Homo sapiens: one gene and its partner. The protein of the gene in region 1 purifies or fractionates together with the protein of each later gene. This does not show direct contact. Each region holds a gene or a part of one and is shown on either strand. Other genes may lie near its edges.

Region 1 (3,649 bases):
AAACTTACATACTCATCTATACACAGGGGAAACCATGAAGAACTTTAGAGAAATCACATGATCAGACATGAATTTTAGTAAGCCAACACTAGCAGCAGTGTGAAAGCCAGATAAGAAGGGTAAGAGACTGAAGGACTACAGATAGAGAAGCTGGAGATGAGACTAGACGTCTGAACAATTCTAAACGTAAGATAGGGCATAACTGAATTAAGAGTGATATGATATATATTGGTTTTCATCCATGGTTCCTGGTTTATAAGTCCCACAGCTCTTATTACATTCTTTTTTAATATTAAATTTAATTTTATATAAGTAGAGACAGGATTTCACTATGTTGGCCAGGCTGGTCTCGAACTCCTGGCCTCAAGTGATCCGCCCACATCGGCCTTCCAAAGTGATGGGATTACAGAGGTAAGCCACTGTGCCTGGCCTTACTACAGTCTTTTGTATAATGTTGGGGCACATTAAACCTCAGAAAACAGAATCTCTTCTCTTGCTGACCTTTTCCTGCCCTCCTTTCCACCAACCCAAGGCAGAACTCTAATCTTCCACAGCCTGTCTGACTGTGGGTCATAAGACCTTCCCTTTAGAAGGGAGCTTGCCCCAGACCCTGGAAGAAGGAATGCTGCAGACAGGCAGAAGAAGTTGGACAGGCAGGCCTTGCTGGGTTTCCCCACTGGGTCTATTAGTGCTGTTAGGTCATACTCTTTTTGTCCAATCACATTTCTACACAGTTGTTGACTGTGCCTATGTAATGAAGCCTCCATAAAAACCCAAAAGGAGTGGATTCAGAGAGCTTCTGGATAGCTGAACATTGGAGGCTCCTGGAAGGTGGCGCACCATGGGAAGGCATGGAAGCTCCATGCTCTTTCCCCTATCTCCCCCTATGCATCTGTTCATCTGTATCCTTTGAACATCCTTTATAATAAACCGGTAAGTGTTTCTCTGAGTTCTGTGAGCTGCTCTAGCACATTAATTGAACCCAAGGACGTAAGGAGTGGGGGGGTCATGGGATCCCTGATTTATAGCCAGTGTTATCAGAAGCACAGGCAAAATCAAAATAACCTGGGGCTTGCGATTAGCACTGGAAGTGGGGGAAGTCTTTTGGGAACTGCCCTCAACCAGTGGTGTCTGACACTACCTCCAGGTACACCGTATTGGAACCGGGGGGCACCCAGTTGGTATCTGCTGCAGAACTAACTGGTTGGTTGCTGTGGGGGGAGAAACCCCCAAGCATCTGGTCACAGAAGTCTTCTGTGTTAATTATTGTTGTGTTGAGTGAGAGAATTAAAAAATACTTTGGCTGTGATTTTACCCTGCTCACTAAGACACATCAATATTGAGAAGCAGAGAGAGTTTGAAGAAATATTTAAGAGGACCTGGTAATTAATAAGATATAGGGAATGGTAAAGAAGAATCTAAGATATCCACTAAGGTTCCAACTTGATTAACTGAAAACAGTTGGCAGAAACAAATTTCAGTCTCCTGCAACTCACAGAACTCAAGACCAGCGTGTTCTTTCCAACTTTAGGATTATATGTCGAGGCTTTAGTTTCTATTCCAGGTCAGACTATAAAGAAGGTTACCTCCATTACACTGACCTGAGCCCCAAAACTGCAAACACTAAGCAATATGCCACCAGAATTTGGGGAGGGGAGCAAAAATAGGAAAACCATGGAAATGGGTGGCGAAAGGATCCACAGCCTGAGATATGCACACTAATTTTTCATGGTTCCCAACAAAGTTTTGTCTCTCCCATAAAGGAGACTGACTGGGTACAGCTGAGGACCACATCTAATTCCCAAAGGTGTGTCAGTCAACTCTCTGTTAAGCTAAAAAGAAAAGTGGATATAAACTGGGTGAAAGAAGAAAAAGATTGTCAATGTCAGCAACTAGAGAGATGGAACAAAAGTCTCAAGAGCAACGATGGCAGAGAGGTGAAAATCTGAGCTAGCCATTTGTATGTAAGGAGCATTTTCATATAAATATTGTAAAAACTGTGCTAAGTACTAGTCACAGATTGAAACGTGAAAAGAGGCCAGGTGCAGTGGCTCACACCTGTAATTCCAGCACTTTGGGAGGCCGAAGTGGGCAGATCACCTGGGTCAGGAGTTCAAGACCAGCCTGGCCAACATGGGGAAACCCCGTCTCTAATAAAAGCACAAAAATTAGCCGGGCATGGTGGCGGGCACCTGTAATCCCAGCTACTCAGGAGGCTGAGGCAGAAGAATAGCTTGAACCCAGGAGGCAGAGACTGAGGATAGCTGAGATCGCGCCACTGCACTCCAGCCTGGGCAACAAGAGCAAGACTGAGCCTCAAACAAAAGAAAAAAAAATGTGAAAAGGAATTTCAACATAACTTATTCATTTACTAACATTTATAGAATAGCTAACAATGTACCAGAAATTATAATAAATATGAACACAGTTTTTATTGTATTAATGCCATTATATTTGTATAGGCCCTACAGCTTTCAGTAGACTTCAGCATAAATTACATTATACATTTTCCTCAAGAGGGATGCTGTAATAGCTTTCTAAAAATTAGTATGTATTCCAGCCCAGTGCAGTGGCTCATGCCTGTAATCCCAACACTTTGGGATGCCGAGGTGGGCAGATCACATGAGGTCAGGAGTTTGAGACCAGTCTGGCCAACAGGGTGAAACCCTGTCCCTACTAAAAATACAAAAATTGGCTCGGCACGGTGGCTCATGCCTGTAATCCCAGCACTTTGGGTGGCCGAGGCGGGTCGATCACCTCAGGTCAGGAGTTCAAGACCAGCCTGGCCAACATGGTAAAACCTTGTCTCTGCTAAAAAGACAAAAATTAGCCAGGAGTGGTGGCGCGTGCCTGTAATCCCAGCTACTCCAGAGGCTGAGGCATGAGAATCGCTTGAACCCAGGAGGCAGAGGTTGCAGTGAGCAGAGATTGCACCACTACACTCCAGCTGGGGTAACAGAACAAGAGTCTATCTCAAAAAAAAAGTCACTACTATACCATAGGAATTAGTGTGGTCTACTGATTACATTAGCACTGGGCAAGGTTCAGTTTAAATCAAGTTCTCAGAGTACCCAAAGTAAAATCAACATATCTAATCCTTGCTATACTGACCTAATTTTAAACTGATTTTATAGGATTACTTTTCTTTCTTCCAATACAGTGATTCATCTTCTGCATTTAAGGTCGATATTAGAGATATCTAAAAGGATCTATGATGAATGGATAAAGAAAATGTAATATATATACAGAATGGAATACCATACAGCCTTTAAAAGGAAGAAAATTATGTCATTTTCAAAAACGTAGATTAACCCGGAGGACATAATGCTAAGTGAAATAAATAAGACACAAAAAAACAAATACTGCATGATCTCACATATGTGTAAAATCTAAAAAAAAAAGTCAAACTCAGGGAGGCAGAGAGCAGAATGGTGGTCTACAAAGGCTAGGGAGAAGGGGGAAAAAGGAAAGGAGAGAGGTTAGTCAAAGAATACCAAGTTTCAGTTAGAGGAGTAAGTTTTAGAGATCTATTGCATGCCACGGTGACTATAATTAATAATAATGTACTATATACCTCAAAATTGCTAAAAGTTAATTTTAAACGTTCTCACCACAAACAAATGGCAAGTAGGTGATATGATGGACGTGT
Region 2 (3,219 bases), on another chromosome or scaffold:
CCCCGAGCCCCGCCCCGAGCCCCGCCCCGGGCCCTGTGGTCCCGGGATGAGCTCTCCGCGCAGCCAGGCTCGCTCCAGTGCCCGCCCAGCGCTGACTTCATTGGCTGCCTCCCCAGTCCCGCCCCCAGGGGGGCCCTGCTGATGTTCGTAGCCAATCCGCAGGCGCGGTGGCAGCTGCGGGTCGCGGGTCGCGGGTCGCGAGTCGCCGGTCGCCGGTCGCGGCGGAGCCTGGGCGCTGAGGTACCGGGGCCTGGACGAGGGGGCCGCGGTCTGGCTAGGGAGCCGCGCGGGCTCATGGCGGTACGGCGACCTGGCCTCGCTCGAGGGTTCGCGGGCGGGCCGCCCCTCCCCGGGCTCCTAGGGGGACGCTCCAGCTGGAGGGGCGGTGACCGCGACTGTCGTGGGCTGGCCCCAGGTGGCTAGGGTTGGGGGTCAGAGGTCAGAGGTTCTGCCCTCTGGAATGTTAGGGCCCCGCCCGTGGAGCCGTGGAGCCCTGGGGCCGGGCCGCTCCCCATTTTCCTGTCAGCTCTTGTTGAGGTGCCCCATCTTTTCGCAGAAGGGACTTGGAGGGAAGCGGGCCTGGAGCTGCTGCCGCCGCCCCTGAGCTCGGACGCGAAGGCTGGCCCCGTCCCCGGGCTGCCGCCGTGGTCCTGCAGGTGACCCTCAACCCCCCGAGGACCGCCGGCCGCCTCCCGCCTCCGGGCAGGCTCAGGAGCGCGCGGAGCGGGGTGTGGGCCTGTGACCCTCGAAGGCGTGGGCGGGGAGTAGGGGGTCGAGCTGGGGCCGCAGGCTGTCCCCGTACGGGCTGCTCCCCTGTGGCTCCGAAGCCACCTTTTTCTGAAGTTGTCAGCCCGCGTGTTTGAGATTTCGTTTCTGGAATCTCACGCGAACAATCTGGAGAGAGGAACAGGGGTCTTGCGGCTTTGGCTGTTGACTCAAGGGGAAAATAAAAACCAGACAATGGGGATGTAATGAATGCAAAGTGACCCGTGAGCAAACTGGACGCTTTTCTCCGGCTGACAGGCATGAGTTCTCCCCGTAGCTTGCCCCACATACTGTGAGTTAAACTGTGTCAAAGTAAGAGCAGTTTAGCCCCACAGTTCTGAGCAAGAGTCCTTAGCGCTGACCTTCTTAGTGAAGATACTTTGCAATGTGTAAAATATTGAATACAAAATTATTGTGCAAAGCTTCTGAGTTGAAGATTCTGAGTGCGCGGAGGCTGGCGGCAGCCCTTACTTGCCATTGCAAGGATCTCAACTTACTACTCTGAGAGCAAAAGTAGTTGTTTCTTTACAGATGTGGGTTTAGGGGAGACAGCTATGGATGAGGAACAGGGGCGGGGTTCGTTTTCTGCACAAAACGTATGCGATTAGAAAAAACAAAGGGTTTTTATTCTGCCTATCTTCTTCCATCTCAGCCAGCATAAGCACATTCTTTTTTTTCTGTTGATGATGTATGCTGAGTATTTGCAGCGATTAGGAAAAGGAATACTCTCTAACAAGACACTTCTCTTTAAACGAGGCGGTGGAGGGATGATTATGTCTTCTGTGGAATTAACCCTCCGGCTTGATTTTCAGTGAAGAAAATGAGGCACGAGGAATTGTTAACCAAGACCTTCCAAGGCCCAGCTGTTGTGTGTGGGACTCCGACCAGCCACGTATACATGTTTAAGAATGGCAGTGGGGACTCGGGGGACTCTTCTGAAGAAGAGTCTCACCGTGTGGTTTTGCGGCCCCGGGGCAAGGAGCGCCACAAGAGCGGTGTCCACCAGCCTCCCCAGGCGGGAGCAGGTGACGTGGTGCTGCTGCAGCGGGAGCTGGCCCAGGAGGACAGCCTCAACAAGCTGGCGCTGCAGTATGGCTGCAAAGTAAGACACCCCTCAGGGGCCCTGCCCCGCTCCGTTTCAAGGAACACGGGGAACTCACTGCAGGGTGGGTGCCCTTGCCGCCCTTCTTAACCCTGCCAGGCCGTCAGGAGAGGCCTGCTGTAGCAGCCAAGGACTCCCCTATTTAGCCAGAATTGGAATGCAGGTGGGAGTACCTTTAGTTCCCAACCCTGGCCCCCAAAGAGGGAGGGTTAGCGCATTTCTTTCTCTGCAGGGAACTTCTCCTTTTCCTGTTTTCTCCACACTGAAATTCTGAAACCTTTTTTCTTCTTTCGAGCACATTTTATTTTAGACCTAATGGGGCTGGAGATACCAGGCAGAATTTAATTCCGGATTTCTATGGTATGCTTGCTTTTCTCGCTGCTCTTATTTTTCTGAACCTTTCTTGGTGGTAGCTTACTTGACTTTTGGTAAAGTTTTACCTTCTCTCGTTTAGAACTGCATGGTCTTTTGTATGCTGTGTATCTATATAACCCTGTTTTTCTCTAATTATGTTTTCAGCATTCAGAGTGATTAACAATGGCAAAGTAAGTAGGAAAGTATTTCTAGAATTGCTGCATTTTCTCCTAGATTGCAACTGTTTCACTTTGCTAACACTGTGCTACAGATTTGTATGGCCTTCTCTAGGGGTATATAAGCTACTTAATTTAAGAAATCTCTTTCTCCTACAAGTGTCTTATCTAACAAGGTCCAAATGTCTGAAACATGTTGTGTGGGGTGTTGCGGTCTTTCAGGGAAATAAACAGGTTGGTCTCCGGGGACACATAGTGGTCTTTAAATTGTACTGACAATTATATTTGGCTCCGATAAGCAGCTTCTGCAGGCATACTGTGTGGCTTACAGAACATGGGCTGAAAAATGAAGCCTGTCCTACAAAGACCGGAATAGATGGAGTAGGCTTCTTGGTATGGTGATGTCTAAATCCGTAAAGAATATATAAAGCCTTTGATAAGTGATCAGTTTTCCTATTTGAAGTAAATAAATTTGCTCTTAATTTATTGAAGGCAGAGACAGAAAGATCTCAAGGGTCTCATGCATTAGATTCAGGACATAGTGAATTAAAAATGTCCCCTACCCCAAATCAGTTACAATAACAGCAGTTGCTGAATAATAATGGAAATGATTGATTTGATTGAGATCTGTTGGCTGTATTCACTTTCTAGTTTAAGTGGACTTAAGTGTTAAAAGTTTGGAGTTCATCTCTGATGCTTTTGGAAAGTTTTCAAACATTAGTTTGAGGGAGGGGTTACCCTTTGACTTACATTCTCCCTGCTTCTTAAATCTTCGTGTTTGATTATGAGAGGAGTTTGTCATGAACTTTGTTACTTGATAAA

The links.
Region 2: the proteins of CLCN3 (region 1) and LYSMD4 fractionate together in Homo sapiens (co-fractionation; one large-scale study listed by BioGRID). This does not show direct contact.

Annotation. Positions count from the first base shown.
Region 1 is NC_000004.12:169,623,478-169,627,126, reverse strand, and holds part of CLCN3 (H(+)/Cl(-) exchange transporter 3), read right to left. Parts: intron 1-3,649.
Region 2 is NC_000015.10:99,730,366-99,733,584, reverse strand, and holds the start of LYSMD4 (lysM and putative peptidoglycan-binding domain-containing protein 4), read left to right. Parts: upstream 1-1,577; 5' UTR 1,578-1,585; coding exon 1,586-1,867; exon of another isoform or gene 1,868-2,162; coding exon of another isoform or gene 2,163-2,227; exon of another isoform or gene 2,228-2,376; coding exon of another isoform or gene 2,377-2,412; exon of another isoform or gene 2,413-2,790; intron 2,791-3,219.